3 separate regions of the Homo sapiens genome follow, and regions 1 and 2 are each linked to region 3. Evidence: fine-mapped expression QTL. A gene starts in region 3. Each other region holds a variant in brackets. All regions are shown on one strand. Distances are from middle to middle. Region 1 overlaps IL18R1 (interleukin 18 receptor 1). Region 2 has its middle 13 kb from the start of SLC9A4. Region 3 holds the start of IL18RAP (interleukin 18 receptor accessory protein).

Evidence for each region.
Region 1: its variant is fine-mapped to the expression of IL18RAP in whole blood (INTERVAL, PIP above 0.99).
Region 2: its variant is fine-mapped to the expression of IL18RAP in whole blood (INTERVAL, PIP 0.98).

Annotation. Positions count from the first base shown.
Region 1 is chr2:102,370,547-102,378,546 of GRCh38, forward strand. It overlaps IL18R1 (interleukin 18 receptor 1), which reads left to right. Exons shown (of 11, transcript NM_003855.5): 4 at 1,407-1,572; 5 at 5,361-5,517. Among named protein-coding and RNA genes, the nearest start is that of IL18R1, 19 kb to the left of the region's middle. The variant G/A (reference allele first, on the strand shown) is at 4,363.
Region 2 is chr2:102,456,011-102,464,314 of GRCh38, forward strand. No RefSeq gene overlaps it. Among named protein-coding and RNA genes, the nearest start is that of SLC9A4, 13 kb to the right of the region's middle. The variant AAGAG/A (reference allele first, on the strand shown) is at 3,633.
Region 3 is chr2:102,419,127-102,427,126 of GRCh38, forward strand. IL18RAP (interleukin 18 receptor accessory protein) reads left to right here and starts at 4,034. Exons shown (of 10, transcript NM_001393487.1): 1 at 4,034-4,221; 2 at 4,685-5,009; 3 at 5,105-5,288. The coding sequence starts at 4,152.

The sequences.
Region 1 (8,000 bases), 49 kb before region 3:
CCAGTCACGGCCAATCTTTTATAAATTCATGCCCAAGGTGAAGGGGCCAGATTCATTGGATTGTGAAAGTGTAGAATTGTGCAGAGCACTTCTGGCCTCTGGGGCCAAATAGATGTGCATTTGTATCCTGGCCCCATCTTGTAGCAAGTGTGTGGCCTGAGTGAGTTGTTTAACCTGTCTGAGATTTAGCATTCTCATCTGAGCCTAAGGAAAATAGTCATCTCCCTTGCATGTACATAGTCTAATACCTGGAACTCAGTAAGTGTTAGTCTTTTCTTCCTTCTATCCTATTGTAGACCTAAAGGGGAACTGGAAGAGCCTAAGGTGGGCACAAATGTGTCAGGCATAGAGGATAACTTAAAAACACGCATCTGCTGTATTTAGCAAATAAATCTATACATCACAGGTGCAGTGGAAGCAAACATGAAATTTGAAACATTTTCTCTTTAAAATCTTCATTTAAAAAATACTGTATTGTTTTCCAATTCCAGATCACCTTTTTTTGTTGTTGTTGTTGTTGTTTTTTTGAGATGGAATTTCGCTCTTGTTACCCAGGCTGGAGTGCAATGGCGCGATCTCCACTCACTGCAACCTCCGCCTCCTGCCTCAGCTTCCCGAGTAGCTGGGATTACCGTACCCAGCTAATTTTTGTAGTTTTAGTAGAGACGGAGTTTCACCACATTGGCCAGGCTGGTCTCAAACTCCTGACCTCAGGTGATCCACCTGCCTTGGCCTCCCAAAGTGCTGGGATTACAGGTGTGAGCCACTGCACCTGGCCTAGTGATAGTCCTGATCACTAATTTCTGATCAGGAGTAACAACAACTATAAAATCTATTCACACTCACTTTTGGTCAGTAAGGCATTTAAAGAGCTAATTCAATTACACTGAGGGCAGCAACTCCAGACTTTGGTTTATTCAACAGTAAAAGAAGGGGATTGGAAGAAGTTGCCTTGAGAAACAAAACCTAATATATATATACACACATTTAGAAAACAACATCAGGAGTTTATAGACCTTTTGAAACCAAAGCCACCCTCCCATCCTGGGCCAAGACTCTCTGAACTTATCCATCAGTGAAGATCACTGACATTGTAAAGATTTGCTTTTCTGACATCCATAATATATTGTCTGCAGTAGGATATGTGCGTGTGTGCGTGTGCATGTGTGTGTCTCTGTGTGTAGACTGCTTAGGTTTTCATTTATTACCCCCTGCTCCCATGACAGTTTTTAAAGTTCTTGCTCTTCTGAATCAAGCGGAGGCAGAGCAGGGTTTGCACATCAATGAATCAATCTCTTTAATAAAAATAAAGGAAAAATATTGTAACTGGTTACTAAAGGGAAGATGGGTGATATTTGCAAAGTTTCTGTAGCATTATAAAATACCTTTACACTTTTATTCCATAGAAATTATACTCAGAAATGGAAATTAAATGTCATCAGAAGAAATAAACACAGCTGTTTCACTGAAAGACAAGTAACTAGTAAAATTGTGGAAGTTAAAAAATTTTTTCAGATAACCTGTGAAAACAGTTACTATCAAACACTGGTCAACAGCACATCATTGTATAAGGTAATGCTTTTATAATATTTTAACTTTAAGACTTGATGGAAAAGATAAAATTCCCAAATGAGGGGCTGAGAGCTACCATTCTGGTCTCATAACAAATAAGCTGCCTGATCCCACATGGCTCACTTGCCCTGTTTGAGCCAAGTATCCTCACTGGCTTGTTGTCAAGAGCTGATACATAGTATTAAAATATGTTCCACAGTAGTTTCCCTGGATTTGGTGTTCAATAAATGATCACAGTTTCTTCTCCCACACTCTTCCTTCATTTTCCTTCTCTTTCGATAAGTTAGTTTTTAGGAATGCTAGTTTAAGGATTTCCATTTTCTCCTGTCACATGTACTTAACATGTAAAACTCAATTGTATATGTTTTTCTGAATATATTAGTTCATTTTATAAAATTGGAAATGGTAATGCTTTTATAATATTTTAACTTTAAAACTGAAAAATGAAGAAAGCAAAAATCACTCATAAATCCATCACAGACTTTTTTTTTCTGTGAAGCATCTGCTTTTTAAAAGTGGTATATTTTATTTTTTTATGTTTTTTCCTCTAAGAATTACGTTGTGACTATCCCTTCACATCTTTAAATGATCTTCTAAACATGGGCTTTCAGTTTTTATGTGCCTGGTTTCATCTAACTAACCCCCTTGTTTCGTCTAACTAATCCCATTGTTATTGGACATTTGTGAATTGCCTATTTTTCACTATTATTTAAAGGCTAAAATGAATACCATTTCCACAAATCCTTGGGTGTTTATATGATTTGTCCTTCAACCAAATCCCTAAATGTAGAATTACTGGATCAGAGGCTGTGAGCATGTTTTTATGTCTTTTTCCTCACACTATCAAACTTGTCTCCAGGGAGCTCTGCCAATTTTACCCCACACTTGAAAAAAGAATCCCAATTTTTTGTCACCTCCACAACACAGGGAAATAATGGTCCCAGAATGTTTAAAATTTGATATGAAAAATTTCTAAAACTCCTAGTGGTTTTTTCACTTTTCTTAGTAATAAATTAAACTTTTGTATATATTTATTGCATCTTACTGCAATCAGGCAATTTTGTGGGTTGCCTGTTTATTTTTTTCTGTTTTCTTCAGTTGGTATACCTTTTACCTGTTGAATTTTAAAAGCTCTTATACACCATGGAATACTATACAGCCATAAAAAAGCATGAGTTCATGTCTTTTGTAGGGACATGGATGAAGCTGGAAACCATCATTCTCAGAAAACTAACACAGGAATAGAAAACCAAACACTGCATGTTCTCACTCATAAGTGGGAGGTGAACAATGAGAACACATGGACACAGGGAGGGGAACATCACACACCGGGGCCTGTTGTGTGGGGTGGGAGGGTAGGGGATGTATAGCATTAGGAGAAATACCTAATGTAGATGACAAATTGATGGGTTCAGCAAACCACCATGGCACGTGTATACCTATGTAACAAACCTGCACATTCTCCACATATACCCCAGAACTTAAAGTATAATAAAAAAAAAAGCTCTTTTAGACCACGCTATAGGAATTATATATACACATACATAGCGTGTGTGAGTGTAGTGTGTGTATGCATAAAAAACATACGCACTCCCATCCACACACATACGCAACACAAATTGTGTAGTTCAGGGGTCCCCAATCCCCATGCCACTCCCCCTCACTAACATTACCACCTCCTGTGAGATCCGCAGCTGCATTAGACTCTCACAGGAGTAAGAACCCTATTGTGAACTGTGCATGCGAGGAATCTATGTTGCATGCTCCTTATGAGAATCTAATGCCTGATGATCTGTCACTGTCTCCCATCACCCCCAGATAGGACCACCTATTTGCAGGAAAACAAGCTCAGGGCTCCACTGATTCTACATTATGGTGAGTTGTATAATTATCTCATTATATATTACAGTGTAATAACAATAGAAATAAAGTGCACAATAAATGTAATGCGCCTGAATCATCCCCAAACCAACCATTCCCCGCTCAACCCCTGCCCACCCTGGTCCATGGAAAAGTTGTCATTCATGAAATCAGTCTCTGTGTCAAAACGGTTGGGGACAGCTGATGTAGTTTATATGGAATAACAAATCTGAATAATATGACTCTGTCGTGGAAACTTTAAAGACCTATAAGAGAGTGGTCTGAACAGAACTTGGGAAATCTGAAGCGAGTGATGATAATATCCTTGAAATTTTTGTTTGTGCCTTATGCTTGAACACTGTTTACTTGTGATTTCCAAAGACAGCTCTTATCTGAAATGTTTTCTAAACACTCGAATCAGTCCTGAGTTGACTTTATTCTATTTCCCATCAATGTACAAATGTGTTACAGTATATGTAAATTAGTGAGGCTTGGTGTGCTGAGTTTTAAGAAATTCCGTTCGGGTGCAGTGGCTCACACCTGTAATCCCAGCACTTTGTGAGGCTGAGGTGGGCGGATTATTAGGTCAGGTGATCGAGACCATGCTGGCTAATATGATGAAACCCCGTCTCTACTAAAAATACAAAAAATTAGCTGGGTGTGGTGGCACATGCCTGTAGTCCCAACTGCTCGGGAGGCTGAGGAAGGAGAATCACTTGAACCCGGGAGGCAGAGGTTGCAGCGAGCCGAGACTGGGCCACTGCACTCCAGCCTAGGGGAGAGAGCGATACTCCGTCTCAAAAAAAAAAAAATGAAATTCCAAAGTGCAGCTATTTAAATTATGAGCATTGGTGCACCAAGGATATTTAGCTAAACAATTGACCACAGGGCTAAGTATTCTAAGCCTGTTGACTGATCATGACTTCACCC[G/A]AGAGCAAGGAGGCTAATTCAGTAGATAATTGATTGGAAAGGAAAATGAAGAGTCTCTGATCTTTTCTATAGCTTGAAAAAATTAGTTTGGCTTTATAAAATTTTGACTTATACATAAATAATTTACTGACGTGAGGTACACATGTGGGTGCTTCACGGGCACATTCTATGCACAATGGGTCTAGCCCCAGTGGCTGCCAGCTCTGAGGGAGAAGTCTGTGGGCAGTAGGTTCTCCTTGCTTGGTGTTTGCAGAAACAGTGTCCAATGGTCAAGGATGGCCATTCAGCCCCCAGACATCCCATGTGGTCCCTGCATGGCTCTGGGACCTACCTCTGGGTGTCAGATGTGCTGGATTGAAGAAAGTGGCTTTATTACAATTAGTATTAATTCCTGTGACATGTATGGAAATGTGTGTGAGAGAGAGAGAGATGTTTGAGTGTACCTATGGATTTGAATATTGCTGATGCATTTCTAATCAGCTCGCTGGCTTCTGATGGAGGGTGTCAAAGGTGTGGGTGGTCTGCTAGCTACTCATTCTCTGAGTAATTCTCCACCCATCCCACTATCCACCCCTTGGATGCATAGTCCAGAATACACAAAATTGGACTGAACATGTATGAAATAGAGTTGTGACTCAAGCAAGGGTTTTTGAAGTAGTGTTCTCTCTCTCTCTCTGTCTCTCGCTGTTTCTCTCTCTCTGCATGTGTGTAAAAGAGAGAGATGAAAGAATATTGATGAAAGCAGCTACAGTGCTCATATTGCCCCATGCTCTACTTCCCAGCATATATTAATAATGATAATCATGCCAACAGCAATGGGATCGCATTTAATTGTTTCAGTAAAAGTAGTACCAAGTAACTGGGACATATGTCCAGGAATTGCTACTTTCCATTCTTTTTTCCTTTTTCTCTAAAGATCTTTAACTCAAAAATTTGGATCACTGTAATATCAATTTGGCTTTTACTTAAAGTATTTTAACTTGTTTTATTAAAAACAGAACTGTAAAAAGCTACTACTGGAGAACAATAAAAACCCAACGATAAAGAAGAACGCCGAGTTTGAAGATCAGGGGTATTACTCCTGCGTGCATTTCCTTCATCATAATGGAAAACTATTTAATATCACCAAAACCTTCAATATAACAATAGTGGAAGGTAAGGGAAATCTTAGAATTGGGAAGAAACAGACGTATTTTAGTAAAATGGAATTTTTTCATTCTTCAAAACTGTGTAGGAATTGAGAGTCCACTTAGTTGGGGTTGTGACCACACCACTAGTTCAAATATGATGGTCAAAATCTTCATTCTGGTGCTCCTCTACTTGGCTAAATAAACCTTTCTTTTTGGCAGGAAATGAAAATCTGTATGAATAAACCTCACATGAGTCAGCTCTCTCTTATATATGAAATTTGAGTAAATTGTGGAATCTTTTGTTGTTGAATTTACATTTTCACTTTACAAGTATTTAGTGAAGATATCTATACTCAATAAACTGTACTTAGCACAAGGAGGCAGGGAAGCAAGGAAGTATGAGATGAAGTGAGCACTGTACTATTCTCAAGGGATTTGATTCTAATCAGGAGAGGCAATAAGCTACATAAAGGTGTATGAAACAGCATCATCTGTGAGGCTGCAAGAGTGCAGGGGGAGGTTGGAGGAAGGACAGATGCAGGAGGCTCCATTTGACCTGGGTCTTGGAGGGGGAGCCTCATGAAACAGTGACCTGCTGGGGGAAGGGATCTCCACTGGGAGAGTGTAAGGAACACTGATGTGCTGGTGGGAGGGGAGGGATGATGGACCCAGGCTGTGTGTGATGGAGGAACAGAATCCTGGGACATTAAAGGTATTTAATTAAACCTCACCCAGTGAAGATATTCATCATAAGGCACAGCCAATGATTGATCATCCAGTCCCTTCTTGGGAACTATCAAGGAAATGACCAAATCACACAGCAGTGTAGTCCAGATTTTAATATCTGATTGTTGAAGTCTTTTTTTTCCATTGAGTCCAAATATCCCTTCTCGTAGCTTCCAACCACTGATTTTGATTTGCCTTCAAGAATTTCACAGATTAAATCTGGCTCCTTCTTAAAATGACAGCTCCTTTCGTGATTTGAAGACAGGTTGCTTATCCAGTCTGGATTTTTTTCCCCATCATCCTGAGAAACTGGAAACTGTAACACTTGTGTGGGTGGCTTGTTCAACAAAATCTGTGGGCTCACATTTGCTACAGCCTTTGCTTTAGCAACATCTTTCTTCTTCACTACAACCATATAGCTATATACACCCACATGTTGCCACAGTAACAAATTATCCCAAGTTTAGTGTCTTCGGTAAAATCAAGGTTTTGCCAGAATTGCTTTACTTCTGGAGGCTGTAGGGGAAAATGCGTTTCTTTTATTTTTTTATTTATTTTATATTTTTGAGATGGAGTCTTGCTCTGTTGCCTAGGCTGCAGTGCAGTGGCGCAGCCTTGGGGCTCACTGCAAGCTCCGCCTCCTGGGTTCACACCATTCTCCTGCCTCAGCCTCCCGAGTAGCTGGGACTACAGGCACCCGCCACCACTCCCGGCTAATTTTTATATTTTTTTTAGTAGAGACGGGGTTTCACCGTGTTAGCCAGGATGGTCTCGATCTCCTGACCTCGTGATCCCCCTGCCTTGGTCTCCCAAAGTACTGGGATTACAGGCATAAGCCACTGCACCAGGCTGGAAAATGTGTTTCTTTGCCTTTGCTTTCTCCAGCTTCTAGAGACCACTTGCATTTCTTGGCTTGTGCCACTTCATTTCAGAGCCAAACACATTTGCTTCCCTCACCTCATCTCCTTTTTGACTCTGACCTTTCTGTCTCCCTCTGATGAGGACCTTGAGACAGCATTGTGCCCACCTAGATAATCCAGGGTGATCCCCCTATCTCAAGATCCTTAATTTAATCACACCTAGAGGTTCCTTTTGCCATGTAACATATCGTATTCACAGGAACTCAGGAGTAGGATGTGGGAAACTTCAGGGTCTATTATTCTGCCTGCCACAGCCCAGAACCTGGGAAACCCATAACTGAATTTTAAACTCAAAAACTTAAATTCTGTGTATAATCATCTACCCTAAACTCTCCAACTTTACTTTCCTACATCTATTTTTAATCTCATATAAATCTCTGTTACTTTGATACTTTCAGAACCTACACCCTCTTTCCCACCATCTTTGCTTTCTGCCCATCAGCAGCTCTTTCCTTCCTTCTTTGATGAAGCTGTAGGAATATCCATTATTAAAAGGGTGCTTGTTATGGGCCAGGGATAGTGCCAAGTACTGGAGTTGAATCATGTCATATAATCCTCACAACAGCTCTGTGAGACTGTGGCCTTGGGTGAGTTAATTTCCTTAGTTCCTCTCTGCCTCAGATTCCTCATCATGAAATGGGACAGTAATGGTTCATCCCTCGTAGGGTTGGCTGACAATGACTGAGTGAGTGTGTGTACAGCTCTAGGATGGCTCTAGGGACAGTAAGAGTTCTGCTGTAATGACCATCTCCCACTGCTAGGTTCCCAAACCTCACCTGCAGCACAAGCTATTCTTCTCCCATAATTGTCCATCTTATTTTTCTTGTCTTCTTGGAGAATGTCAACTGAGTCTCTCAGGACT
Region 2 (8,304 bases), 37 kb after region 3:
AATGCATAAAATCAAAGACTAAAATGGTGGCTGGAGGCTGGGGAAAATAGGAAGTGATTGATAAATAGGCATAAAATATCAGATACGTGAAATGGAAAAGCACATAATGTACAACATTATGCCTATAGTCAACAATAATGTATTGTACACATAAAATTGATTAAGAGGATAGGCCCCATGTTGAGCATTCTTTCCACAATAAAAATGTTTTGATGGAATAATCAAAATGTTTAAATAATCCAAAAGAAGGGAAGAGAAAAACAGAGGAACAAAAACTAAGATAAATAGAAATCAAATAACAAAATGGTAGACATAAATCCAAACATCATAATAATTACATTAAGTGTAAAATGTCTAAACACAATAATTAAAAGACAGAGATTATTAGAATAAACTTTTATAAATTTATTTAAAACCATCTTCAGTAAGCCTTTTATCAGATTTGACTTGATCAGAACCAGATTCAGCTAATTTGCTGTCTTTAAAATTAGTGAAATCTTGATCATTGTCCTGCATTCTCAGCACATTGTCTTTTGCAAGCTTATCTGAACAAGAAATTTAACCCCCTTACAATAAAAATGCTTTGAGTATAATGGTGTAGGTAGGTTAATAAGATATAATTACATGAACATTAATTAAAAGAAAGCTAGAGTGCCTATATATATATTATTTATTTATATATTCTTTAGAAATGAATAATATATTAATAAATATATTATATATTTTATATGATGAACATGTTAATGTAAATTACTATTTATTATATATTATACATAGTATATGAAAAATATATTTATATATTACTTGTTTCTAAATAAATAAATATATATTTATGCACATTTTTTGGGGACAGGGTCTCCCTCCGTCACCCAGGCTGGAGCACAGTGGTGTATCATGGCTCACTGCAGCCTCGACCTCACAGGCTCAAGCAATCTTTTCATCTCAGCCCCCCAAGTAACTGGGACCACAGATGTGTGCCACCACATCCGGCTAATTTTTTTCACATTTTTTTTGTAGAGATGGAGTTTCACCATCTTGCCCAGGCTGGTCTTGAACTCCTGAGCTCAAGTGATCTGCCTGCCTTTGCCTCCCTAAGTGCTGGGATTGTAGGTATGAGCCACCATGTCAGGCCCTGGAGTACCTATAATACATCAGCTAAAGGAGACTTTGGAGCAAAGAAAATTACCAGAGAGAAAAACAGATATTACATTATGATAAAAGGACAAATTTACCAACAGGACATAACAGTCTTAATTAAATGTGTATGCACCTAACAGCAGTGCTTCAAAATACATGAAGCAAAACTGACAGAACTAAAAGAAGAAATAGACAAATCCACGACTGTAGTTGGAGACTTGAATATTATTCTCAAGTATTGATAAAATGGTAAACAGAAATTTATCAAGAATATAGGCTGCGCGTGGTGGCTCATGCCTGTAATCCCAGCACTTTGGGAGGCCGAGTTGGGCGGATCACGAGGTCAGGAGCTTGAGATCAGCCTGCCCAGCACGGTGAAACCCCGTCTCTACTAAAAATACAAAAAATTAGCCAGGCATGGTGGCGCGTGCTTGTAATCCCAGCTACTCAGGAGGCTGAGGCAGGAGAATCTCCTGAACCCAGGAAGCAGAGGTTGCAGTGAGCCGGATCGTGCCATTGCACTCCAGCCTGGGTGACAGAGTGAGACTCCGTCTCAGAAAAAAAAAGAAGAAGAATATAGAACAACACTACTTAATTGTTGTTTTCTAGATCTACTTGACATTTATAGAATGTTCCACCCAATGATTGCAGAATACACAATCTTTTGATGTACACACCGACCATGTGCTAAGATATACCGTATCCTAGATTGTAAAACAAACAATAACAAGAATTTAGAAATTGAAATTGTACAAAGTTATATTCTGTATTTATAATGGATTTATAATGAATTCAGACTAGAGATTATTAAGAGAAAGATGGTGGGAAAAATCTCAAAACATTTGGAAATTAAGTGACACATTTCTCAATAATCTATGGATAAAAATGGAAGTCTCAAAGCAAATGAAATGATATTTTCAAATGAATGGAAATGAAAATGCAACATATCAAAATTTGCAAGATGAGACTAAAGCCATGCTTAAGGGCAAGTATATAATATTAAATACTTATGTTAAAAGAGGAAAATATATAAATTAATAATCTAAACTTCCACCTTAGGAAGCCAAAAAAAAATAATAAATTTGAGAGCAGAAACCACTGCCATTGAATAACATAAAACAATAAAGAAAATCAATAGTACAGGAACCTGGTTCTTCGAGAGCATCAATAAAACTGAAAAACTCCTAGCAAGACTGACCAAAAAAAAAAGAAGAAGAAGGAAGACACAAATTACCAGTATTAGTAGTGAGATAAGAGATATCAATACAGATCCTGCACATCTTAAACGAATAAGGAAATGTTATGGATACTGTATAAATACATATTTGACAACCTAAATGAAATGGATAAATGCTCAAAAACCACAAGCTAAAAATACTTATCCAATATTAAATAAATAACCTAATTGGTCATAACTGTTAAAAAAATTAATTCCTATTATTAAATTTCCAAAAATAAAATCTTCAGACCCCGATGGTTTCACTGCCTAATTCTATCAAACATTTAAAGGAAAAAAAAAATGTGAATCCTACACAATTTTTTTCAGAAAACAGAAGAAGGAACATTTCCTAAGTTATGCAAATTATTATGAGTCCAGAATTTTTCTAATACCAAAACCAAACAAAAAAAATTATAAGACAACTATAGACCAACATTCTTCATGAACATTGACACAAAAATACTCAAGAAAATATTAGCAAATTGAACCTAGTAATATATAAATAGAATAATGCATCACAACCAAGTGGAGCTTATCATGGGTATTCAGGGCAGGCTTCATATTTTAAAATATTTCAGTGTAATTCTTTATATTAACAGTGTAAGGAAGAACAAAGACATGATCATATGAACCAATTCCAAAAATATATTTGACAAAATTCACCATCGTCTCGTCATAAAACCTCTCAGCAAACTAGGCATAGAAGGGAATTTTCTCATCATGATAAGGGGCTCTAAAAACAACAACAAACAAACTATAGATGAAAAAATCATACTAAATGGTGAAAGACTGTATGTATGTTTTCTCTATAAGATGGGAAGCAAGGCAAGGATACTTACTCGCAGAATACTATACAACCTTGTATGAAAGTTTTCACCAGTGCAATAAGACGAGGAAAAGAAATAACATGCATGCAGTTTGGAAAGAAAGAAACAATCTCTCCTTTTTTTCTAAAAAGTAATTTTCTATGTAGAATATCCAAGAAAGCTATAAAAATATTCCTAGAACTGATAAGTGAGTTTAGCAAGTTCTTAGGATACATGATTAACAACGTAAAAATCAAATGTATTTCTATCTCTATTAAGAAACAATTGAAAACCAGATGTTACAGACATTACCATTTATAATAGGTCAAAAAAGAAAGAGGAAAGGAAGGAAAGAAGGAAGGATAGGGAAGGAAAGGAAGAAAGAGAAAGAAATAAGAGAGAAAGAAAGAGAGAAAAAAGAAAGAAAGGAAGGAAAGAGAAAGGAAGAAAGAGAAAGAAAGAAAGAAAGA[AAGAG/A]AGAAAGAAAGAAAGAAAGAAAGAAAGAAAGAAAGAAAGAAAGAGAGGGAGGGAGGGAGGGAGGGAGATTCATGTATAAATGAACAGAATGTGTGGATGTTCCATAAGCTAAAAACTATGAAATACTTATGAGCAAAATTAAAGAACAATTAAATAAAGAGAGAAGCATAGCATGTTTGGTGATACAAAGATTCAACATATTGTCAAATCAACAATCCCCTTTACATTGATTAAGAGGTTTAACGCAATTCCAACTGATATTCCAGCAGAATTTTTTGTAGATTATAGGCAAACTAATTCTAAAATATATGTGGGAAAGCGAATAAACTAGAAAAACCAAAGCTATTTGGAAAAGAAAATAAAGTTGGAGGAGTCATGCTAGACGATTTTATGAATCAATAAAAAGTTACAGCAACCAAAATGGTGTGATATTAACAAAGCAATAGATCAATGGAACTGAGTAGAAAGTCTAGAAATACATCCACACAAATATGGCCTATTGATTTTGACAAATTTTCAAAGGCAATTCAATAAAGAATAGAGTTTTAAACAAATGGTTTTGCATCAATTGGACATACATATGCAATAAGATGAAGCTCACAGCTTATACAAAATTAACTTGTAATAGGCCATAGATCTCAATGTAAAGCCTAAATCTATAAAACTGTTAGAAGAAAACATGACCTAGGATTAGAAAAAGAGTTCTTAGATGTAACACCAAAAGCATGATCCGTAGAGAAAAAAAAAGTTGGAGTTTAACAAAGTTAAAACCACTTTTTCCGAGAAAACCACTGCTAAAAGGATGAAAAAAAAAAACAAGCTTTAAATTGACAAAAATTATTTCAAAATCACAAGTCCAATAAAGGACTTGTGCTGAGAGTTTATAAAGATTTCTCTAAACTCAATAATAACAAGTAGCTACCAATTAAAAAAGGAGCAAAAACTTGAATAGACATTTTGCTAAAGAGGACAGACAGATGGCAAACAGGCACATAAAAAGATGTGCAACAGCACCATCCACTGGGAAAATGGAAATTAAAGCCACAAGGAGAAAACACACACACACACACACCATGGGGCACATAGAGAAAAAGAAAAGAAACCTAACAACACGAAATGGTGATGATGTAGAGAAACTAGAACTCTCATATACTACTGGTGAGAGTGCAAAATAGTGCAGCCACCCTACAAAACAATTTAACAAGTCCTTATAATGTGACTTCCTTACTAGATGCCCAAAACATCCTACTTGTAGATATTTACCCCAGAGAAATAAAAACTTACGTTCACACAAAATCCAATACACAAATGTTTATTGTGGCTCTACTCATAATAACTAATACCTAGAAAAACTCAAGGACTTTCAACCAGTATGTGTCAGCTAAAGTCCAATCAAAAGACAGAAATCATGTAGTAATTTAAAAAGGGATATTATGATATAAATGATTATTTGGCTGTGATGAGAGACTGATTATAAGGACATGAATAGAACTCCAAAGAGTATCTCAGGGCTGAGAGATAGTAGAAAGACAAAGTTGCAAGTGGTCCCCTCCCCAAGACTGGGGTTCAGACATCACTAGAAGCAGTGTGGTGTAGCCCACTGAATGGCAAGGAAGGTCTCTTACGTGCCTGGGTCAGAGCTAGTTCACAGTTGCTGGGAAAGCTGGAAGCAAACCTGTCAGGTGCAGTCAAGCCATGGCTGGTGGGCAGACATGCAGCATGGCCAGGCCATGACTGCTTTAGGATGCAGGCGAGCTGTAGTTGATATGCGGGTACACAGGGCATTCAGAATGCCACTGTGGGCATGCGGCCTGGAGTGCACAGTGTCCACATCAGGAAGATATTGGGAGGTGGTCACCTGGCCTAAGCTAGTACTGCGAGGTCACTGAGCAACGGCTTCCTCTGGATATAGCTAGTGCAGAGCACCAACAGATGTCTACACACACACACTGCTGCCTGATGGTGCAGCACAAGTGAGAAAAAAAAACAGAACACAGCAGCTGGAACCAGACGGACCCTCCTGTAATGCTTGTCCAACTCCCTGTACCAAAGAGGTGAATACTATGCTCACTGTATAGGATGAATGCTTCAAAAATTCAATCCATTACACACAGCAGGTACTGAATGGTGAATTCAGAGCTGTGAGGTAATACATTGATAACTGGTGATAAATTGATAACTGGTATAGGGTGAATTAATTAACAAATAGTTGTACAAGCAAACCATGAAATACTTCTCAGCAATACAAAGGAATTCACCACTGAGACATGCACCAGCTTGGATAAATCTCAATGCAGTATGCTGGGTAGAAAAAGCTTATCTCTAAAGGTTACATGATTCCATTTCTATGACATTTTCAAAAAGTCAAAACAGTGACAGAACAGATTATTGGTTTCCAGGAGTTAGGGATGGAGGAGGGCGGGTCTCAAAGAAAGAGCATGTAACCTGATTGTCTTGGTGATTATGTGAATTTACATCCGTATTTAAATGCACACAACTGTAAATCAAACAAGCTAATTTTATTGTATGTTAATTTAAAAATAAAAATGTAAACCCATTCTCCCTAACCCTACCAAGATGTCCACTGCTCCTGGTGCACCTGATGAAGGTGATACCTTCTCTGTCTCCACCTCGTCTTCTGCCCCATGCAGTAAAGCCCCTAATGGTCCATTCTTCCAATGTGACTCTAACCTGGTTATTCTGCACAGCATTCACCTGGTTCATGGGGAATTGGATGCCCACTTTCCCCACCATTGCTCCCAGGCTTCCCTCTCTTTCCTTGCTCTCCAACTGCATTTGTTCCAGCTGATCTGCCATTGTCAATGATATCCTGCCGAGGATCAGGCACCAGTCTGATTTTTGAAACCCAAAGAAAAGATTATAAACTCTTTCAAGACTTTTTTTACTTGTCTACATTCCAATTACATAGATTCTGTGGGGATGAGAACTCAGCTCTGTACAGCTTTAGCAGGGGTGAAATGTCAGTCTTCCCCGCTGGCAGAAAGCCTCGCATCTATGAGTTGTGACCTTGGAGCTCTCTAATTGGGGGGCTGTAGGGTCTTTTACATAGGTCTCTGGGGATGCGAGTGCTGGACCAGTTTGGCTACCCTTAGCAAGTCCTGCAGGGGTTTTGTCTAACATCTCTGTTTGAACTGAGAGTGCACTTGCCACTCTAAGTCCTTAAATTTGTTACCTTTGCCAAAATTCAAGGTCAACTGAAAAACGCCCCATTTAACCTCTGATTGTACCACCCCCAGGTAAGTTTCTGTGCCCTTTAAAAAGCCAACTATATACAGGAAAGTCTCTGACCAGAACTTGGCACAGTTAAATATCACTTACTGGCTTTTCTTACCTTTGTATTCTGGTTCATTTCACGTCTAGGAGTTTTTCATAAGCCCCACATCTGTAACTGGATAATTGAACAGGCTGAATTTACTAAGATATCTGCAGAAAATGGCGTTGCTCTTCTCCCACCATTGCCTCACTACATTTTTTAAGGTCGCATTTGCTTCAACTGATCAGATCTCATAAGAAGCTATTTACAAATCAACCACTCAGTTACGGATGGATGATCATGTACGCAATTGTACTTTAACTAGAGCTAACTGCAGCGATGTGACAGAGAAAATGTTACGTGTTCACCAAAATCATTTTGTTTTTCTGAACACACAGCCACTTTTCCCAGCCTTCTTTGTAGTTGGTTTGGGACACGTGACTAATATTTTCTAGAAGTAGAGTGGATGTGATAGGGTGATTTCTAGACTGAGGCAATGCAGATATAACTTTTGCACACTCTGTCTTGCCCATTGTGACCTTGGAGGCTACATGCTTGAGCTGGCATGCCCACATGATAAAGGTGTTCCTTATCCACATTGAAACTATAATGTGGGTACAAAGTAAACTACCTATGTTCAGCCACTGAAGTTTCTAGATGATTTATTATTGTTGCGGAGTTTAAAGTGTCCTAACTGACAAAAAAAGTTGAGTCTTTTTTGTTCTCTTTCTTAACGTCTCAGAGTGTTCTGAGGGTTTTCTCATCTGAAACTGTCATGGTTTTCAGAGTTAAGAAATTCACACTGAAACAGTTCTCTTTTGGTGGACAGCATCCTGATTTCCCTCTATGTTGTTCTGTCTCATTTCCCCGCATAATTCCTACTTCTTGCCTTTTGATTCTGCACTATGTGCCTGTGACAAGGCAGTTCAGGCAATCATTGCTCAACTGAACTGAGCTCTTTGTGTACCACCACACAAGTGAAGATCCTAATGAAGAATCCTTCGCACCCCACTCCTAGACTTGCACAACAGGTATTGACAACTTATTCCAGTAGGCGCTCTTACCAACAGTTTTTTTTCTTTCTTTCTTTCTTTTTTTTTTTTTTGAGACAGAGTCTCACTCCGTCGCCCAGGCTGAAGTGCAGTGGTGCGATCTCGGCTCGCTGCAACCCTCTGCCTCTCGGGTTCAAGTGATTCTCCTGCCTCAGCCTCTGGAGTAGCTGGGATTACAGATGCGTACCACCATGCCCAGTTAATTTTTGTATTTTTAGTAGAGACGGCGTTTCACCATGTTGGTCAGGCTGGTCTCGAACTCCTGACCTCATGATCCACCCGCCTCAGCTCCCAAAGGGCTGGGATTACAGGTGTGAGCCACTGCGGCAGGCCACCTTCAAC
Region 3 (8,000 bases):
AAAAAAACTGATGGTTATAAAATAAACCCGTTTAAAGTGCTTTGAGCATTTTACAGGAAGGGCTAAGAGCAGAGAGATTCAAGATATTTGCCAAATTTGAATGCCCATTTAAACTTAACTGTAACATCTTTGATGGCAGGTACTACAGCTTCATTTTCTGTTATCCCTAGACAATGGGGTCTAAAGCCACCATGGAGCATCTGAGAATCATAATGATATTAGTTAAATTAAATACTGTCACTATTACACGAGACCAAATCTCTGTCTGCAGGTGTTCTCTGTGTAAAGTAGTTTAAGTCTGCCTTTGATGGTGACATTTCTCTCCCTGGGTCTCAGATCCCTGTTGACACTGCTTTCTCCAGCACTTTCCTCTCTCTCCCCCGTTTCTCACCAAAAAGTTTTGTGGGTAAAGTTTAGTTCATTATTTCTGCCAGAGACAGCTGAAGGTGTAGCCTTGACCAACTGAAAGGGAAATCTTCATCCTCTGAAAAAACATATGTGATTCTCAAAAAACGCATCTGGAAAATTGATAAAGAAGCGATTCTGTAGATTCTCCCAGCGCTGTTGGGCTCTCAATTCCTTCTGTGAAGGACAACATATGGTGATGGGGAAATCAGAAGCTTTGAGACCCTCTACACCTGGATATGAATCCCCCTTCTAATACTTACCAGGTATGTGATTATCATTGAGAATGGGCACTGCCATTCCAAGCAATGTGAGCCTTGGTTGTCCATCTGTAATATGAGAAAGACAGCACCCCGCTTCACTTTACAGAAAGTAAATGAGTGCCACATTATTTTATTCCCATAAGCAGAGTCTGAAGCTTGCTTTGGCTTAAGTTGCCCAGTGCTCAATAAATGATGTACTCTGCATTTTGGTGGCTCCTTCCGATTCGGTGAAGCATTTTAGTGACGGCAGCATGGAAGACATCACTTAGACATTAGATGGCCTTCAAAAGGTAGATATTAACAAGCAAGCCACACAGTGTGGGTGTGTTGTCCCACATAAATGAGACTTCCAGAATGGTCTTGGGCTCATGTTGGTCAGTTGCCTACAATGCTGGCAACAGCTACTGTAACTCAGCACTAACCCACCTCCCCAAGCTCTATGCTTATCCCTGAGCAGGGTTTCCCAAAAGTGTCTCCCAGATGAGCGTGGTGGCTCTGACACTTGTTTATAATGTAGGTTCCATTGTTCTTCTCCTTGAGAATCTGATTTAATAAGTCCTCAGGAAGCCCAAAAATCTGCATTTGTAATAAGGGTTTCGGGTGATTCTTATAATCAAGATGATTTGAGAAACACTGTCCCAGAGTGATAGCTGCAGCCTGCAATCAGCCCCAGGCAGCTGGAGGTCTGAGGCCAGTTGGTGGGTGGGTGCATCAGTAGGCAGTATCTGTCATCTCAAGGTTGGCGGACATTCCTGAGTGCTGGAGACTGCTGGGCATCGTGGTAACTAATTTGCTATAGGCTTGGACATTTAGACATAAATTGCGGGATGGTAGAGCTGGGAGGATCTTAGCAACCATCTGATCTTATGATTTACAAGTCAGGGAGCTTTTTTAAAAATTACAAATATCCCGACTTAAACATCAGAAATTCTGATTCCCTCATTCTAAGGTGGAGGAACTACTGATACAGTCCAGACATTTTATTTTGCAGGTAAGAAAGCTGAGGTCCAAAAAGAGCCTAAGTGACTTAATTGGAGCCACACAGTATGTGAATCACCATAATAGATTGCTATGTGTTTGTTCTGATGGCTCTGGAAGTGTTTATCATTTTTTCAGAACACAGAATTTATTACTAATTGTTCATTTGGCACTCTCCTAGGATCAGGATATATGATTTCTGAAATGGGATATCTGCTCTTCAGGAGCTCCCAATCTAGTGGGAGGACAAGGTGTAAGGAACAACTGATCTACTGCAGCATGGTTAAATCCTGAACAAGTCATTACTGAGCTCCTGTTATCAGCTAGGCACTATTCCTGCAGAGAGGCTGCAGGACTCAGAAAGACAAACTCAGTTCCTGCTGGGATGGAACTTATATTCTAGTTGGGGAGAAGTTTTAGGAGTAAGATATTTTCAGACAATAATATGTGCTAAGACAAAAGTCATTTAAAATGAGTAGCAAGAGAGATGGTTGATGGCAAGAAGGGAGAGGGCGCTTCTTTATCCAGGTGGTCAGGGAACGACTCTCTGAGGAAGAAATCAGGGAAGACATGAGAGAGCCAAACGCTACAGCATTTTGTCCATGGTGCTCTGGAATCTGTGCTTCATCACATGGGTGGTGGGAGCCGGTGACGTTTTGGGCATGGAAATGAAATGCCCAGGCTTGCTGCTTAGGAAGATGTGTCTGGTGGTGGAGTTGGAGGACTGTTCTTTCGGAGACTTTGTGGACAAGGGAAAGGCAAGTGGGGAGACCACATCTTTAAAGGCCATTGCTGATCCTGCCTTGTTCCTTGGTTGCAGTCCTTGTAAGAAGAGCTGTCAGTTGTCAGCAATGGGGATAATGCAGTGACCTTAACACCTATCCGTGGCATTCTGCAAGGCGCATTGCACAGAACCCCCTTTCTTTCTTCCATGAACACGCCTTGCTCTCAGCAGACAGCCAGGTCAGCATCAGCAGCCAGGTGGTAGCATCCTGTACTTTCCTGTACTTTCTGGCTCCACCTGGACAAAGTGGTCTGGGCAGACTTTCCTTTTCACCTGCATGGTTCTACCTGCCTCTTGTCCAAGATTAATCTCCCCATGGTATCAGGGACCCCACTTCTTCTGGCTTCCTGGGAGAAAGCAGTCCATGCACCCTCTCCTCACTCTCACTTGTATTTGTCCTCACTGACCTGCTGACGCATTCCCCTCGCAGTGGAATCCTACCCAAGGCCCTCTCATCTCCAGAAATGAGCAAACACTTCCTCCTGTCTTCCTGCATCATGCAGACTCTAGCAGGCGTGGTTCTTCCCCGCTTCCCACATTCCCTCTACTCCTCTCTCTCCACCCTGAAGCTCTCCGTTATCTCACCCCAGCTGCACATGCTGAGCTTTTGGTGGCCAAACCAAGACTCTTTGGTGGACACTTTTCAGTCCTTCTCATGCCCAACTCCTCTGCAGCTTCTGAAACTGATGTCTAGTCTCTCCTCCAAGCTTTCTCTGTCTGGATTGCCAAGGTGGTCTCTCTGCTCTGCTCCTTGCATTCCTTTTAGGTTTGTCATTCTTTATTTTCCATTAGCCCTGGCCTACTTTTAAAGGTTGAGGTTCCTCAGGGAAGTTCATCTGCCCTCCCTTATGGGGCAACAGAAACAATCCAGGCTTGTTACAGATGCCCCAGGCTCCCTCCAGCTGCTGAAACTGAGACCCTGCTCTGAGCCATATGCCTCCCCACCCCTCTGCCCTGGGAATGCTCCAGCTGGATCCCCAAGATATTTCAAGTAAGTGGTTTGAAAGGTCCCATGACTGCCTTATCAAGAGAGGGGACTCAAGTCCTTTGGACACAGCCCAGATCTGATTCTCTGGAGGGGACCTGCTCCCCCTTTCATATTTGAGAGTTGATAGTGGTGCCATCCAGTGACAATTTTCCCTCTTGCATGTGGGGCAGGGAGAGGTAGGTGGCCTCTATTCTCTAATAGAATAGACTAGTATATGCAAACATTCTCAAATTTTATAAATAGGAGCTATATCTCTAGCTTTCCTAACCGTGAAAAATCTGACAGTTTTATTCAACTTGGGTCATTTTTTCAGGAAAAGTTAAACATAACTCTTTTCAAATTACTCATGGAAATACACATGCTAGGTGAGCACATCAAAGAAAAAAGATTAATGAGGGGAAAAATGGCATTAAAAGAACACACTGCATAGAGCCTAGGGATATTGGGAGCTTGAGATGATTTGTAAGAAATGACACAAGTGAAAAGGTTGCTACACACCATTGGAAATACTCACGTAAGTTATAGGCAAGTGAAGGCCGGTTTGGGTAGGACCTGCCCTTTCAAAGCTTCCTGTGTGAGATGCACTTTGTTCACTGGTTCTGACTTCTTCATTTCCCATTTCTTGATTTACAGAAATGAAGGGGATACTCAGGGCAGAGTTCTGAATCTCAAAACACTCTACTCTGGCAAAGGAATGAAGTTATTGGAGTGATGACAGGAACACGGGAGAACAATGCTCTGTTTGGGCTGGATATTTCTTTGGCTTGTTGCAGGAGAGCGAATTAAAGGATTTAATATTTCAGGTAGGGGTTTTCACTTTTCATGTTAGCACTGTGAGTCTGTGGTCAAGTGTAAAGTGATGGATAACCTGATATATCAGCAGTGTGATATATTAATACAAACCTTTCCATCCTACTATTAAAAGGGGACTGAGAGGAGAATTATTAGGGTGAACAGCTTTCAGCTGATACCAAGCATTGTCGAGGTACCCTGTTACTGTAGTTGAGTGTTCAGTGAGATCAGCTGACGAGGGATGAGCCAGAGTTCTACCATCTTTTCCAGGAAACCAGGGCTGCTGCTGGTATGCTGGAGTCCACTGGGAGGGAATTAGAACAGGCACTTCCTTTCCCCTACAAAATAGACAGTGAAGAAGAAAGACACACAAGGAAGCTAGATCTCTTGTTAAATCAAGTACTAGATGTAAATATAAGCTAGAATTCCATTTTCTAATGTGTTTCCATGTGCTTTGTTTATTATGATTTTCAGGTTGTTCCACAAAAAAACTCCTTTGGACATATTCTACAAGGAGTGAAGAGGAATTTGTCTTATTTTGTGATTTACCAGAGCCACAGAAATCACATTTCTGCCACAGAAATCGACTCTCACCAAAACAAGTCCCTGAGCACCTGCCCTTCATGGGTAGTAACGACCTATCTGATGTCCAATGGTACCAACAACCTTCGAATGGAGATCCATTAGAGGACATTAGGAAAAGCTATCCTCACATCATTCAGGACAAATGTACCCTTCACTTTTTGACCCCAGGGGTGAATAATTCTGGGTCATATATTTGTAGACCCAAGATGATTAAGTATGATCCAAATACATTTCTATCTGAAAACATTTCCAAATCCTCTATTATCTAGACAAAATATCTATGTTCACAGGATCTTGTTAATTTCCTAGGAGCCCCTATGATGTAGCCTGTTGTGTCAAGATGATTTTAGAAGTTAAGCCCCAGACAAATGCATCCTGTGAGTATTCCGCATCACATAAGCAAGACCTACTTCTTGGGAGCACTGGCTCTATTTCTTGCCCCAGTCTCAGCTGCCAAAGTGATGCACAAAGTCCAGCGGTAACCTGGTACAAGGTAAGAGTGAATTCTCTAAAATTAATATAAGAGCATTGTTTTTATGGTATCTTCTTCATGGGCTTTTCATGGAAAAGCGTGTTTGAGAATCTGAGGTATACAGCTTCTCAAAAACTGGCCCTGTGCCTCTGCAGGAGATCTGACTTTCTAAAATAATCATGTTCCCTGGGAAGCCACAGAGCTTGATATTCTAATTATTAGAGGCATCCTTTTGATCAACACCAGAGAAACTTCTAAAATTCAAGTATATTACACATGAGGTTAGACATAAACCTACTAACATCTGCTAATGTAGGAAGATAGGTTCACTCATTTTCACTGTCTTAGGAAAGCAACAGGCATTGCAAAGGGGAAGGGAGGACTCAACACATAAGTCTTGAAGGGTTTGTGAAAGTTACAGGAGCCTGAAATACATTCCCAAAAGACAGCTCTTGGAGGACAGTTAGGACGAATCCAAGGTGGGCCTGAGTGACAGATGTCTTGCACAGGTGAGATGGTGGAAAGGAGTACAGTGCAAATAGAAAAAGGGAACAAGAGCAAGTTTCACAATGACTTTTAGCTATGAACCACATGTACGTGAACTCCCATAACAAAAGCACTTCATGTTTCCATCGTGTTTGATAGTGTTTCCAAGTGCTAGCAGATGATGAAATGCTGCCTAACCATCTCCTCCAAAAGAGCCCCCTGTCAGTTGATTCTTGGGTGGTGGAATCCAGGAATAGAATCTAAATCACTTCCTACAATTGCAATAACTATTTGAAGTTCAATACTTTGTCTTCAAAGTTATGCAGAATTTTGTATTCAACCTCATAATATATGTGTTTGTTAATATAAAAATATCATTCTAAATTGCTACTGATTAAAATCAGAAAGATGAGTTATCTAATGGTTTAATGCACCCCAAATTTTAAGAATGAGAGTCTCCTGGGGATACAGTTACCATGGTAAGAGGAAACATTTCCCTACTTGATTCCTGAGACTCCAGGCTAATAGGAAGACAGATGTTATCACATCCTTTACAGAAATAAATATACAGGGTGGACGAACGGCATGGGGTATGGTCTCAAATTTGTGTTTTTATATGACACTGAAAGAATGCTGGTCTCAATAAAACCCTAATTTCAGAAACATTCATTTCATAACCTTTAAAATGAGGTTAGTAAGAAGAGCCAATAGTTTTGTTCATTATTTTCAGTTCTCTCTCAAGAACAAAACTTCCTTTGGTTCAAAGTATCCGTCATCCAGGATGGCAGCTGTCTTGTTGTCTTGGTGGGCTGTTCTCAGGCCTGTAAAGCAGTCTTGTCCCCGTTATTTCAGATGAAAATGTGTTTGGCTTTTCAATGATCATACACCTGAAGTGAAAGCTATGAATTTTTACTTTTCAGGTGAGCACAAGTTGCATAATAGTAGCCAGCTTTCTGCAAATATTGCTTTTATAAACTAAACCCTAAAACTGTATGACATTCACAAAAGGAAGCTTTGTTTCACTTCCCTGGGGCTTTGACTGCAAACGTCAACATGTGTTTAATGGTGAACAGGCAGCCACCTTAAGAATAGGTGAACAATGGCTGTTATGAAAATTGTACCTCTGATACAGATTTGGACAGGTCCTGGTTTTGTGAATTACACATATGTGTGTGTGCACTCACACATACACATGCATATAAAGGCACATAGTAACCTGGAAATCACAGACCTTATGGCAGTAGTACATCACTAAAAGTGATGGCATTAGGCAGGAAAAAACACCTAATGCCTTTTTCCTTCATGCTAACCCCCAGGTTCTCAGGTGGTGGGTAAGTCATACCTACGACCCATCTCTGAATAGGTGAAGCTGGCACTGGCTGAGAGAATGAAAACATGGCTTTACTGAATTCAAATAAAACTGCTGACCAGGGATACACCCACCAGATATACAGAGTATACAACTGAAATAAATCCCTGGGCTTGGAGTCTCTGGAGCATTCCACAATATTTTTAATTGGCGAATTAAGAACAGGCTTGCAGATTGTTTAAATTTTTTTCAACTTCTTTATTTTAAAATTATTTTTAATTAACAAATCATAATTGTATACATTTACAATAGATTAAATATATACAATACATTTAATGGTCAATAGATTTTAAAAAAAGATGCCAAGAACTCACAATGGGGAAAGGATTACCTCTCCAATAAGTGGTGTTAGGAAAACTGGTTATCTACAGGGAGAAGAATGAAATTGTATCTCATACCACATGCAAAAAAAAGTATTGATGTGATGTTTTGATATATGTATACAATGTGGAGTGATTAACTCAAGCTAATTAACACATCCATCACCTTGCTTACTTTTTTTGTGGACAGACATTTGAAACTTACTCTCTTAGTTATTTTGAAATGTGCAATACAATATTATTGGCTATAGTTATCTTGCTGTGAAATATGCCTGAAAACTTAACTCCTCCCATCTATCTGAAACTTTGTACTCTTTGACCAGTATCTCCCCATTCACCCTCTTCTCCCCACCAATCAAGCCTCCATAATCATCATTCTATTCTCTACTTCTATGAGTTCAACTTTTTAAGGTTCTATATATGAGTGAGCTCTTGCAGCATTTGTCTTTCTGTGCCCGGCTTATTTCACTTAGCATAGCTTCCAAGTTTATTCGTGTTCTCCCACATGATTGAATTTCCTTTTGTAAAGGCTGAATAGTATTTCGTTGCATACATGTA